Homo sapiens: one gene and its partners. The protein of the gene in region 4 purifies or fractionates together with the protein of the main gene of each other region. This does not show direct contact. Each region holds a gene or a part of one and is shown on either strand. Other genes may lie near its edges.

What was found. Proteins that work in one complex are often made in the same cells at the same time.
Region 1: the proteins of EIF4ENIF1 (region 4) and EDC3 fractionate together in Homo sapiens (co-fractionation; one large-scale study listed by IntAct). This does not show direct contact.
Region 2: the proteins of EIF4ENIF1 (region 4) and PAN2 purify together in Homo sapiens (affinity purification with mass spectrometry, with the first as the bait; one large-scale study listed by BioGRID). This does not show direct contact.
Region 3: the proteins of EIF4ENIF1 (region 4) and ATXN2 fractionate together in Homo sapiens (co-fractionation; one large-scale study listed by IntAct). This does not show direct contact.

The regions. Positions count from the first base shown.
Region 1 is NC_000015.10:74,665,025-74,668,524, reverse strand, and holds part of EDC3 (enhancer of mRNA-decapping protein 3), read left to right. Parts: intron 1-3,500. UniProt on the Homo sapiens protein: Binds single-stranded RNA. Involved in the process of mRNA degradation and in the positive regulation of mRNA decapping. May play a role in spermiogenesis and oogenesis.
Region 2 is NC_000012.12:56,324,001-56,327,500, reverse strand, and holds part of PAN2 (PAN2-PAN3 deadenylation complex catalytic subunit PAN2), read left to right. Parts: coding exon 1-137; intron 138-541; coding exon 542-884; intron 885-1,091; coding exon 1,092-1,188; intron 1,189-2,046; coding exon 2,047-2,166; intron 2,167-2,372; coding exon 2,373-2,492; intron 2,493-2,791; coding exon 2,792-2,920; intron 2,921-3,007; coding exon 3,008-3,207; intron 3,208-3,315; coding exon 3,316-3,452; coding exon of another isoform or gene 3,453-3,464; intron 3,465-3,500. UniProt on the Homo sapiens protein: Catalytic subunit of the poly(A)-nuclease (PAN) deadenylation complex, one of two cytoplasmic mRNA deadenylases involved in general and miRNA-mediated mRNA turnover.
Region 3 is NC_000012.12:111,512,316-111,515,815, reverse strand, and holds part of ATXN2 (ataxin-2), read left to right. Parts: intron 1-2,276; coding exon 2,277-2,459; intron 2,460-3,500. UniProt on the Homo sapiens protein: Involved in EGFR trafficking, acting as negative regulator of endocytic EGFR internalization at the plasma membrane.
Region 4 is NC_000022.11:31,479,843-31,483,342, reverse strand, and holds part of EIF4ENIF1 (eukaryotic translation initiation factor 4E transporter), read left to right. Parts: intron 1-3,500. UniProt on the Homo sapiens protein: EIF4E-binding protein that regulates translation and stability of mRNAs in processing bodies (P-bodies). Plays a key role in P-bodies to coordinate the storage of translationally inactive mRNAs in the cytoplasm and prevent their degradation.

The DNA of each region.
Region 1 (3,500 bases), on a different chromosome or scaffold from region 4:
TGAAAATCTTTTTTCTTTTAGCAGAAATTGTTGATTTGTTAGAAGTTCAAATAGGCAGTTTATAATCTTCCGTGCACTTGAAGATGACCCTTATTAGCAATTCATATTATTTTTTTCTACACATTTTTCCCCGTTATTAACGTCTTACATTTGTATGGTATACTTGTTATAATTATTGAACCAATGTTGATGCATTATCATTAAACAAAGTCCATATTTTATTCAGATTGCCTTAGTTTTTACCCGGATGCCCTTGTTTCAGGATCCTGTCCAGCATATCACATCATATTTGGTAGTCATTTCTCTGCTTGGCTCTTACAGTTTCTCAGACCTTCCTTGTTTTTGATGACCTAGACATTTTGATGAATACTGGTCAGGTATTTTGTAGAATGTCTCTCAGTTGGTACTTGATGTTTAAATCATGATTAGACTGGGGTTATATGTTTGGGGGTGGAAGACAACAGAGGTAAAGTACCATTTTCATCACCTTGTGTCAAGTGTATATATTATCACCATGGTTTATAACTTTTGATGTTCACCTTGATCACCTGGCTAAAGTAGGATATATCTAGTTTCTCCTCTGTAAAGTGACTCTTTCTTCCCCTTTACATATGTACTCTTTGGAAGGAAATCACTATGTGCAGCCCACACCCAGGGAGTGAGAAGTTATGTCCCCTCTCCTTGAGGACACAGCATCTTCAGACATTACTTGGAATTCTTTTATGCCAGAGATTCCTCTCTTCTCCCCCATTTGTTTATTTATTCAGTCATTTATTTATATCAGCATGTACTCATGGGTATTTATTTTATACTTTGGCTTATAATTCAATATTACTTTATTTTGGTACTCAAATTATTTCAGTTTTGGCTAGTCTCCAATCTTTCACTTGGATCTCATGTCCCTTTGACATACTCCAATCATTGTGGATTTTATTTTTTTTTTTTTTTAGTACTTAGGTACTTTCTCACACTGAAAGATGCTTACTACTACCACTACTACTACTACTACTGCTGCTGCTGCTGCTTCTCCTCCTCCTCCTCCTCCCTCCTCCTCCCTCCACCCCCTCCCTCTCCCCCTCCCTCCTCCCCCCTTCTCCTTTCTTTCTTCTTCACTAGGGATGCTCATTGCTCCTGGGTGTCACCCTTATAGCTGACAGCAAGAAAATGTGTATACTTCTCTGCAGAGTTCACAGAAAAGAAAATATATGTGTGTATATTTAACCAGCATATATATACATATTTAAATATTTCTATATGTAACTATGTATATTGTACTATACTAAGTATGAGTTCATACTGATGTCTCCAACTTTAATCCATTACCACATGGATCCTTCTAGCCTTCTCCTTTTGCTTGTCTGTTACTTCTCACTCCAACAGTGAGAAACCTGTCTCCTATTGTCATTCATTCTTTACATAATTATTCAATTCCAGTATACATGTATAGTGGTATCAGAATTATTAACTTGTATCGCCATTCCTGTGGGAGACTATCAAACAGAATGTGGTGCTTACGTACTGTTTCTTTTGCCTTTCATCTGACTCCATTCATTTCTAGAGTTATTTAGGTCTCCCATTTCCTTCATTGACTTGTTTCATATATTCATAATACAATTAATTTGTTTTATCACATTCTGCATTCCATCCTGGGATCTTCTAACCTCCTAAATGATTTTTAAAAATTTGCAAACACTAAGGCTCACTCTTTGTGCTGTAAAATTCTGTGGGTTTTGACAAATACATAGCATCATGTATCTGTCATTACAGTATTAAACAGAATAGTTTCATTGTCCTAAACAATCTCTTGTGCCTTACCTGTTCAACTTCCCCCACTTCCCCCTGGCAACTACTGATCTTTTTATTATACCATCCCTGCAGTTTTGCATTTTTCCAGAATATCACATAATTAAAATCATACAGTATGTAGCCCTTTTCAGACTGGCTTCTTTCACTTAGCAAGATGCATTTAAGATTCATTCATGTCGTTTTGTGACTTGATAGGTCATTTCTTTAATTGACGGATAATGTTCCATTGTGTGGATATATCAATTTGTTTACCCATTCACCTATTGCAGGACATCTTGGTGGCTTCCAGGTTTTGGTTATTCTGCTTTTGCTGTTTTGTCAGTTTCCTTTTTCTAGATTGTTAACTGTACATAAATGAGGTAAAGAGATCATAGGGCAGTAAAATGTTACTATTTTTCAAGAAACTTATGTAGAATCCAGATTAGTTTGGAAAATGTTTGTGGCCTGGGAATGGCAATAAGACGTGGCTCAGAATAGGTTTCTGATAGAAGGTAGAGTTATAATTATTTTTCCACTCATTGAGCCCTGTAAGTAAAAAGGTCTGCCTTAGAATTTTCTCCAGTTTATGTACATTGATATTGAGACTAGTAGATTGATGAAGCTATAGAAATATAATCTGTCGGCCGGGTGTGGTGGCTTATGCCTGTAATCTTAACACTTTCGGAGGCTGGGACGGGCAGGTTGCCTGAGCTCAGGAGTTTGAGACCAGCCTAGGCAACATGGTGAAACCCCGTCTGTACACAAATACAAAAAATCAGCTGGGTGTGGTGGTGGGTGCCTGTAATGCCAGCTACTCAGGAGACTGAGGCACAAGAATTGCCTGAACCTGGGAGTCGGAGGTTGCAGTGAGCTGAGATTGTGCCACTGCCCTCCAGCCTGGGCAACAAAGCAAAACTCTGTCTCAAAAAAAAAAAAAAAAAGGAAAGAAAGAAATATAATCTGTCTTCAGTTCTGGCTTTTAAGTGTTCTTTCAGGATTGCAATAAGGAGTTGAGGAATTTGTTGGTTTATAATAGTTAGCTAATCCAACACTGATGATTTAGCACAAGCAGATTTTAATCTCTTTTCGGGTGGGAGTGGGTTTAAAGAATCATGTAAAGAATAGTTTTTCTGTGACCATTCAGAATGTTTGTCAAATAGACATAACATCAGTCCCAGGGAGCAGAGGGAAACCAAGCCTTGTTTAGGGTGCAGCTCTGTGTATGGGTATAATTCATATTTATCAAATCCCATGTCACAGCTGAAAATGGTGACCATGAGGGGCAGATGAAAGGCATCCCTCTCTGAAATCTTAGTCTATGAGCTTGAATAGTCATTGTAACATGCAGTTGAATAAAAATTTAACAGTTAAGTTAAGGCTCTTTTGCCTGTAGAACATGAAAGTAGATAGCTGAGGCTGGGCATGATGGCTGATGTCTCTAATCCCAGCACTTTGGGAGACTGAGGTGGGCAGATCACCTGAGGCCAGGAGTTCGAGACCAGACTGGCCAACATGACGAAACCCTGTCTCTACTAAAAATACAAAAAATTAGCTGGGCCTGGTGGTGCATGCCTGTAATCCCAACTACTTGGGAGGCTGAGGCAGGGAGAATTGCTTGAACCCGGGAGGTGGAGGCTGCAGTGAGCCGAGATCGTGCCATTGCACTCCAGCTTGGGCAACAAGAGTGAAACTGCATCTCAAAACAAACAAAGTAG
Region 2 (3,500 bases), on a different chromosome or scaffold from region 4:
GGCCTGCGACCGTTTCCTCAAGGTGTATGATTTGCGCATGATGCGTGCCATCACACCACTTCAAGTACATGTGGATCCTGCCTTCTTGCGCTTCATTCCTACATATACTTCTCGTCTTGCTATCATCTCTCAGTCAGGTATGAAGGGCATATGGGATTGGGTAGGAGGGATCGATGAGCAAAGGAGAGCTAGAACCCGAAGGAGTACTCATCCTGAAACCTCTTTGTTGGGGAAAGAAGTAACCTTTCATCAGGGTCCCAAGGTTTTACTTGGGTTTGGCCAGAGATTAGAGCTTTTATTTTCTTGAATATGAGGAACATGGAAAAAGGTAAAGATAAAGTAGGCAAAATAACTGTAGAATTGCTCTTTGCTGAGTAGCGAACCATCTGTGGTTTATGGAAGGCACGAAGTGGCATTCTGTCTCTAGGCATGGATTTGGGGCCCATCTTGTCCTGAAATCAGGGGAAGAGGATAGGAAGGGCATAAGAATATGGCTCCCTTTCACTTTCTAGGGCTCAGTGGGTTTCTTCCTCCTTTGTAGGGCAGTGCCAATTCTGTGAACCCACAGGCCTGGCCAACCCAGCCGATATCTTTCATGTGAATCCTGTGGGGCCTCTGCTAATGACATTTGATGTGTCAGCCAGCAAGCAGGCTCTGGCCTTTGGGGATTCTGAGGGCTGTGTGCACCTCTGGACTGATTCCCCGGAGCCTTCCTTCAACCCCTACTCCCGTGAGACTGAGTTTGCTTTGCCGTGTCTCGTGGACTCACTGCCTCCTCTGGACTGGAGCCAGGACCTGCTGCCTCTTTCCCTCATCCCTGTCCCACTCACCACTGACACACTTCTCTCTGATTGGCCTGCTGCCAACTCTGCTCCAGCTCCCAGGTTGTACCCTACCTCTGGGCCAAAAGGCGGGAGGGACAGGGAAAGGGCCAAGATACCAGAATTCTCTGCTAGCCCTGTTGTTATTCTACTACTTTCCTGATTTTTGTCTACCTTCAGTATTTTCTTTTTCTCTGGACCCTTGGGGATTGGGGAGTGGACCAGTGTACACCACAACTCTTTAAGTCCTAGAACTATGCTGGATTGTAGGCGAGCACCACCCGTGGATGCAGAGATTCTGCGCACCATGAAGAAGGTGGGCTTCATTGGCTATGCGCCCAATCCCCGCACCAGGCTGCGCAATCAGGTGTGTTCAGAGTGGAGGGTCAGCCCCGACCCCGGCCCACTGAAGTTTCTCCTATCTTTTTCCTTTACTAGTCTTTCTTTTGTTTTTAGATCCTGTTGGTAACCAACCAAATTGATGGAACTATGCTAGGTGTTAGGGAGGATTCAAAGATAGAGAAGCTAGGGTCCTTGCTGTTAGGAAGTTTAGTATTTGGTTGGTGAAGAGAAGACATAGCCATATCAGAAATTACGTTCTGTTGTTAAATGCTGAAGGAATGTCATAAGCATTTAGTGCCAGAGCTGTTTGGAGGAAAAATGTTATTCCAGGCTAAAGTGACCAAGGAAGGTGTAATGAAAGAGCTGGGTATTAAGCTGGAAAGGTGGGATATCAGTTAAGTAGATAGTAACAGAGGAGAATATCCAAGATGAGAGAAGAGTGTTAGTAAAGATCTCAAGAGGCATAAATGCAAAACACATATCTGAGGGGGACTACATGAGTATACCAGTCTGGCCGGAGTAGCTGTTGGTATTGGGATGTAGTGAGCGATTAAAATTAGAAGTGGCCAGATTGCGAAGCTTTGAACACCAGTCTATAATAGAGGAAGTAATACACAGAAAGCAGCATTCTGCAAGGGTTAATTTGGTAGTGGTGTGCTGGACAGAGTGAACATAGGGAGACCAGTGTGGACGCCATCACAGTTGTCCATCTGTGCTGAAGCAGAGTGATGGCAGTGGAAATAGAAAGGAAGCAGCGGATGCTGAGAGTGCTATGAATATAGAAGGTTCAGGACTTGGTGGCTGTTTCAATGTTGGGATAAATGAGTGTGAAGCCAAAGATGACAAGACATCCAACAAGGTTACCTCTTCCTAAAATCCCTAGATACCCTACAGACTCAAGGAGTCAGACAGTGAATTTGACAGCTTCAGCCAGGTCACTGAGTCACCAGTAGGACGAGAAGAGGAACCACATCTCCACATGGTTTCTAAGAAATACCGCAAGGTGCTGGGGGACATCAGGGCCTGTGGGATGTGGGGAAAGGTACCCTGGGAAGGAAGTCATATGAGAAAGGATTGAAGGACTCAGTCAGGAGGCCTTCAACTACCACCCTGGACCCAGGAGGAAGGCTCTAGGAAAGGCTGTGGCTACTGGAAAGATTTGGGGACTCTGAGAATATCCTTGTCTTGCTCAGACAATTTCTACCTTAGGTGACCATCAAATATTCCAAGCTAGGGCTGGAGGACTTTGACTTCAAACACTACAATAAGACCTTGTTTGCTGGATTAGAGCCCCACATTCCCAACGCCTACTGTAACTGCATGATCCAGGTAAGGGTTGGGTATTCCTGTAACTTGAACGTGCCTGCTGCTTTTCTTCTTCCCTATGGCTCTCGACCCTGCTCTTTCCAGGTCTCCTCAGCCGTGTTCTCTTTACCATGGTCTCCTCTACAATTCTTTCTTGCCTCTACAACTTTCAAGTCTCCTCTGAGCTCCACCGGTTTGGTGGACTCACTGCTTCGGTGGACTCCTGCTTCTGGGACATTTTCTCCACCAGCTCACTTAACCTCCATATTTCTCCTCACCCCCAGGCCAGTTTCCTACATCAGTTCTTCTGCTTTTCCCTCCAGGTGCTCTATTTCCTGGAGCCTGTACGCTGTCTAATTCAAAACCACCTTTGCCAGAAGGAGTTCTGTCTGGCATGTGAGCTGGGCTTCCTGTTTCACATGTTGGACCTCTCTCGTGGTGACCCTTGCCAGGTCAGTACTTGGAGACACTTAAAATGGAAGGGGAAGGAAGGTGGACACAAAAGACAAAATAACCCCTTTCCACCAACACATTTCCAGGGCAATAATTTTCTTCGGGCATTCCGTACTATTCCTGAGGCCTCAGCCCTCGGTCTAATCCTGGCTGACTCAGATGAGGCCTCAGGCAAGGGCAATCTGGCCAGGCTCATTCAGAGGTGGAATCGCTTCATTCTCACTCAACTGCATCAAGATATGCAGGAGCTGGAAATACCACAGGCTTATCGAGGTGCTGGAGGCAGGTATGAAATCAGGATAGAAATAGTTAAAGCCATCATGACAGGCCCCTCTGTGATTTAAAAGGTCTCCTAACTTCCTCAATGTGCATATATCATCCTCTCCACTCTTAGCAGCTTTTGCTCATCGGGGGACTCTGTTATTGGGCAGCTCTTCAGCTGTGAGATGGAGAACTGCAGCCTCTGCCGCTGTGGCAGTGAGACCGTGCGAGCCTCATCCACTCTGCTTTTCACACTCTCCTACCCTGATGGTAGCAAAAGTGGTATACCCTTCAGCTCAGTTGGGAAGGCTCCCCAAA
Region 3 (3,500 bases), on a different chromosome or scaffold from region 4:
AGTCTTGAACTTAGGTTCATTTTACAGCTCTTTGGCCAAGGTCCTAGTGAACCTTCCTATTGGCCATAAGCAGGGATGGTGTTTTCTGGGTCTTTTTTGAGAGCGACAGCCCATGTAGCTGACTTTGCGTGTCTGCCCTTAGATTAAAGTAGTTGATTTTTAGAATGCCAGAAGAATTCTAAATTTAACTGAGTAATTTTTTTAAAGTTAGCTTTGCAATCTTACATAGTGAAAGGCTGCTTTAATCTGGAAGAAGTCCTTGATCTGAGATAAAATTGATAAAAACGACATATGAATTTGAATATTTAGCTATTTCTTTCCTCGTCAAAAATAAGAATAAAATCTTGTAATTCTTATTCAGTATTTGGCGCTAAATCCATCATTGCCACATATCAAATACAGGGATATGTTGTAGAAAGGTAACATTCTAATTTAAATGCCACCCATATATTAAAAACCTGTTTTCTGAATCATAATGTCCTTTTGATACTAGTTCTGAATATTTGTGTTAAAATTTTAATCTGATTTGTTCATTAAAATTAGTTAATATTGCTTATGTTGGGACTAATAAAGTTTTCCGCACAAAATGTGTTTCTCCTGCTTCCCTGGAGAAAACTGTATTGGCTACTTTTAAATAAATTGTTACCATCTAAGCAGGCAGGTCATATGACTTTGACTGAAGCATCTAACCTTGAAGAGCAAGTTCCACTGATTTTCAAGGTGACTTCTTTGCTCAAAAGGGCCTTAATAGTGGTCACTAAATGCAAAATTCTGTTGATATTTTTCTTGTAGTCCATCATTTGAGTAAGCGATGTTTATTTAATGAGAATATATTAAATAAAACATGATCATTAATGACTGTGAACATCTTTATTACATTAAGATTTAAGGACTGCTCATGTATTAACTTCACACAGAAATATACTTTCTGTGTCATTCAGAGATGTTGAATATTTCCATTTGAAAATTATAGTGTATAACATTAGCATTCTTCTAAAGATCATGTTCGTGTTTAAATTCCTGTTGGAAGCCAGGCATGGTGGCTAACGCCTGTAATCTCAGCACTTTGGGAGGCTGAGGCAGGTGGATCACTTGAGGTCAGGAGTTTGAGACCAGCCTGGCCAACATGGTGAAACCTCGTCTCTACTAAAAATACCCAGCTACTTGGGAGGCTGAGGCAGGAGAATCACTTGAACCTGGGAGGCAGAGGTTGCAGTGAGTTGAGATCGTACCACTGCACTCCAGCCTGGGCGACAGAGACAGACTCTGTCTTATAAAAATAAAAATAAAATAATAATTCTATTGGCAACATATATTAATTTGAAGTTCTAAAGAGTTTGGCAGCCGGGTGAGAGAGTGAGGAGATTTGGCTTTGACATTAGGGAAGTTTTCGCTTGGTGTTAACACCAGTAGGCTTCTCTGATGAGGGCCATTCTGTCCACTCTTTTACCTGATAGATTGGTCTAATGCACAGTAGACTGATTTAGAAAGAGTAGTCACTAGTGGCATGGCAGAATCAATAATGTAGAATTTTGACAATTCATATAGTGCTGATTTCTCCCCCAAATGTCAGTTATTTTGGTCATCTATTAATAGACTAATACAAGTCATCCCTTTAATAGAATTTTCAGCTCACAGCCTGCTAAGCCTAAGAAACTGCTTACAGGTTACTGCTTACTGTTTTAAGCCGAGTTTTAAAATTGATGATCATGATAGAAGAGATAAATAAACTAAAATTTTAGAGAAATTTAAGAAGGGTATGTACATATGTTTTAGTGGTATCGGGGTGTATAGGGATTAATAGTCTTCTGTTTAAATTTTTTTTTTCTAATTTTAGAAGTAATGTAGAAAATTCGGGTCAGGGAAAGGTAAAATATATGGAAAGTTAAAAATATTTTATCATGTAGTCATAATTTCTAGTAACATATTTCTTTACAAATAAGACATAGTTGAAACAGATTGCTACAGTTCTTTTAAGAGTTGACATCTTATTGTTGATTTCTTACCACCAACTTCATCCCTCCCTTTCTTTAAAAATAAAGGGAAATAATAAAATTTATTTATAAAACTTTGTGGCATTCCACAAAATAATTCTGAAAGAATTAGTATGGCCAAAAAAATATGTATGGTGTTTTTTTTTTTTCTATTTTTAACCAAGGAAAAACTGTAGAGTGAGTGAGTGTGTGTGCATGTGTGTGTGAATGGGTGTATTTAGCAGAAAAGTAGTACTGATGAATATCATGGAATTTATGTGATGTTCACTGTTTCTTCCTTAGGGCCTCCAAGGATGTCCCCAAAGGCCCAGCGACATCCTCGAAATCACAGAGTTTCTGCTGGGAGGGGTTCCATATCCAGTGGCCTAGAATTTGTATCCCACAACCCACCCAGTGAAGCAGCTACTCCTCCAGTAGCAAGGACCAGTCCCTCGGGGGGAACGTGGTCATCAGTGGTCAGTGGGGGTAGGTAACACTTGGGCATAATGATGGTACTCATTTTGTCATTACACTAGATATAAAGAGGGCTGAGCTACAACTCTGTTTGAGGAAGTGTAAGTATGTATATGTTAAAAATAGTAGAATCACCAGGAATTGGGAAACCCATATTTTTATTCTGGGCTCTACCACTTATTCATCATATATTAAAGCAAGTCAGACACTCATTCTGAAGTTGAGATTTCGCAGTGAGTAAAGTGTTAATAATTCTTGCCTAGTCTACATTATGGGATTGTGATGAGATTCCTATAAGGTTCATAAATACAGATATATTGTAAAACTATAAAGTTTTGTAAAGTACCTCTCTAATATGAGGCAAACACAGTATGTAACACTATTTGGAGGGACCGTATTTCCTTATCTTTTTAGCAGCTTTGTTTATCAGTACATTCTATAAACATTTATTTTTGGCTTACATTGTAGTGTGTTTCTATAGCATCTGTATATGGCACTAATTCCCAACTATATTTCCATAATAAGGAATATCAAATACAAATAAAGGGTCCAAGTTTTATTTGTGATTAGCATAAGGAATATGCTGACAGCAGCTATAAAAGTATAAAAATTAGGCTGGGTGTGGTGGCTCACGCCTGTAATCCCAGCACTTTGGGAGGCTGAGGTGGGCGGATCACAAGGTCAGGAGATCGAGACCATCCTGGCTAACACGGTGAAACCCCGTCCCTACTAAAAGTACAAAAAAAATTAGCCGGGCATGGTGGCGGGTGCCTGTAGTCCCAGCTACTTGGGAGGCTGAGGCAGGAGAATGGCATGAACTCGGGAAGCGGAGCTTGCAGTTAGCTGAGATCACGCCATTGCACTCCAGCATGGGCAACAGAGCAAGACTCTGTCTCAAAAAAAAAAAAAAAAAAAAAGTTTAAAAACTAGACGTTGACATGATTTTACAATAAGGCTGACTGCTTTTGCTACTTTGCCAATCAGTCCTTAGTGCTTTGTTCCCATAACTGTGGTAAGCAAGAGCTTACAAAGAATACTTAAAACAAACAAACA
Region 4 (3,500 bases):
CTGTAGTCTCAGCTACACAGGGGACTGAGGTGAGAGAATCGTTTGAGGCTGCAGTGAGCCATCATCGCGCCATTTCACTACAGCCTGTGCAACAAAAAGAGACCCTGTCTCAAAAAAAAAAAAAAAAAAAAAAGATCGTCTCCTGGCAGTGGTGCTCATTCAACTTTTTCTTCACCAGAAGCCCTTGTTCACCAGTTCTGGAATATAGTACCTGCTATTCTGTTAGTGATGCCATCTTCTGCTTGAAATACAAAATAGAAATGTTTTAGGCCATCCCACTATTCAGATCCATGTGGTTTTCTTTTCTGTTTTTTTGTTTTGAGACAGAGTCTCTGTCTGTCGCCAGGCTGGAGTGCAGTGGCCCTATGTCGGCTCACTGCAACCTCTGCCTCCCGGGTTCAAGCAATTTCCCTACCTCAGCCTCTTGAGTAGCTGGGACTACAGGCGCGTGCCTCCATGCCCAGCTAATTTTTTTTACATTTTAGTAGAGATGGGGTTTCACCATGTTGGCCAGGATGGTCTCGATCTCCTGATCTCATGATCCACCCACCTTGGCCTCCTAAAGTGCTCTGATTACAGGCGTGAGCCACCACGCCTGGCCTCACATCCATGTTATTTTCGTCAAGTGAATAGACTAATCTGTTTTTTTTTGTTTGTTTTTGAGACCGCGTCTCACTCTGTCACCCAGGCTGGAGTGCAGTGTTGCAATCTTGGCTCACTGCAACCTCTGCTTCCCAGGTTCAAGCAATTCTCCTGCCTCAGCCTCCTGAGTAGCTGGGATTACAGGCACGTGCCATGATGCCCAGCTAATTTTTGTATTTTTATTAGAAACGGGGTTTCACCATATTGGTAAGGTTGGTCTCAAACTCCTGACCTCAAGTGATCCACCTGCCGTGGCCTGCCAAAGTGCTGGGATTACAGGCGTGAGCTACCGCACCCGGCCAAATAGACTAATCTTATAAAGGATACATACGTTATGCTGTTCTTCCTTTGCTCCTGTGTTTTGCCACTGATTCCTTATTAAATGACTGTCACCTGCCAGTTGGACAGGGAATAAAAGCAGAGACACTCAGAACATTCAGCTTGATACTGACCAGTGTTAAACATGCGTATTAAAGTTAAGTGAATGTTGAATTATCTTAGTTTAACTTCATGTGGAATTTTTTTTTTTTTTTTTGAGACAGGCTCTCACTGTTATCCAGGCTGGAGTGCAGTGGTACAGTTAACTCACTGCAGCCTCGAACTCTGCATTCATGCGATCCTTCCACCTCAGCCTCCTGAGTAGCTAGGACTACAGGTGTGTGTCACCACACATGGCTAATTTTTTCATTTCTTTGTAGAGATAGGATCTCATTATGTTGCCCAGGCTGGTCTCCAACTCCTGACCTCAAGCGATCCTCCTGCCTCAGCCTCCTAAAGTGCTGGAATTCCAGGTGTGAGCCACTGCATCTGGCCCCATGTGGACTCCTCATAACCTTGACTAGTTACAAAGTGGCATTATTGTAGTCATTAGTGTCTCCAGGGATCTTTAAGGGAGGCCATCCTAATTTGTGGCTGGTAGGCCAATTGGTCATAGCAGTCAGTACAGCCATGTTTGTCTTTCCTTTAAAACAATCAGGAAAATGGACAAGCAGTTGAAGTGACTGACTTGAGTCATCCTAGCCTTCTTGGATATAATCAGAAGACTTGAAGCCAATCCCCAGAGAAAAGAGTAACTGATTTAAATCCTAGGTTGAAACAGGAATCAGGTGGTCCCTTTTTCCAGTACAGAAATCTTATTTGATAACTAAATGTATCTTTTATAAACTGAGTAGTAACTCAGGTGGCATTTCTGTGACAAATTTAGGTATAAACTTCTTAAACTAATTTAAGGATACCTATTTATGTTGGAGAAGGTAGAATTATGGTATGAAAAGTCATTGGGAGGACAAGGTGGGAGGATGAATTGAGTCCAGGAGTTCACGACCAGACTGGGCAATATAGTGAGACCCCATCTCGTTAAAAAAAAAAAAAATTGCCAGAGGTGGTGGTGTGCACCTGTGGTCCCAGATACTCAAGAGGCTAACGTGGGAGGATCACTTGAGCTTGGGAAGTTGAGCTTGCAGTGAGCTATGACTGCACCATTGCACTCCAGCATGGGCAACAGAGTGAGACTCTGTCTCAAAGGAAAAAAAAATTATTCAATCTTAATGTGTCAACTGTCCAGAAAACCTATCTTACTGGAAGTTGTTAGAGCAGGCTGGCTGGCAAGACCATAGAGAATAGCTTCTGACTGCTTTTTCCTACCCGTTCCTTTTTTGTTATTGTTGAGACAGAGTCTTGCACGATCTTGGCTCACTGCAACCTCCACCTCCCAGGTTGAAGTGATTCTCCTGCCTCAGCCTCCTGAGTAGTTGGGATTACAGGTGTGTGCCACCATGCCCAGCTGATTTTCTTTTTTTTAGTAGAGACGATTTCGCCATGTTGGCCAGGATGGTCTCAAACTCCTGACCTCAAGTGATCTGCCCACCTTGGTCTCCTAAAGTGCTGGGGTTACAGACGTGAGCCACTGCACCCGGCCCCTGCCTGTTCGGTTTTGTTTTGTTTTCAGAGGGAGTTTTGTTCCTGTTGCCCAGGCTGGAGTGCAATGGCGTGATCTTGGCTCACCACAACCTCTGCCTCCCGGGTTCAAGCGATTCTCCTGCCTTAGCCTCCCGAGTAGCTGGGACTACAGGCGCACGCCACCATGCCCGGCTAATTTTTTGTATTTTTAGTATAGATGGGGTTTCTCCATGTTAGGCTGGTCTCAAACTTCTGACCTCAGGTGATCTGCCCGTCTCACCCTCCCAAAGTGCTGGGATTACAGGCGTGAGCCACCACGCCCGCCCAGGAATATTTCCCTTTTAATCCCCCTTCCATAAATGTGACTTATGTGAAATTCTACATAATGTCAGAAGGTCCATCAGAATGCATAGTTGTTTCTGCATAGGATTTCTGCAGAAAGAAATGGATAAGGATTTTAACCATTGTTCTTTTGGGCTTTTGTTGAGATTCATTTGCTTTCCACTTTAATAGTGATCACCAAAAGTGGGTGTTCATACTAGTAATTCCCCAATAGGTTTTGGGAGCCTTGACACATTTTCTTTAAGGAAGGCTGCTGCAACTAAGAAAATATGTTTATGCTTCCTTGGGTGTGTGGCTCTTGGGCAATTAGCAGCTTGTTCTTGCCTAGTCAGGTTTTAGTAACCTGTGCAAAAAGTGAAGTCTCAGGTATTAACTCTTATATTCGCCATATGGTAATCTTAATGAATTCATTCGTGATCAGTAAGTTCCTATGGGTTAAGACTTTCCAGGCTAGGCACAGTGGCTCACACTTGTAATCCCAGCACTTTAGGAGGCTGAGGCAAGATGATCACTTGAGCCTAAGAGTTCAGACCAGCCTGGGCAACACAGCAAGACCTCATCTCTACAAAAAATTTTTTAAATTAGCTGGATGTGGTGGCATGCACCTGTAGTCTTAG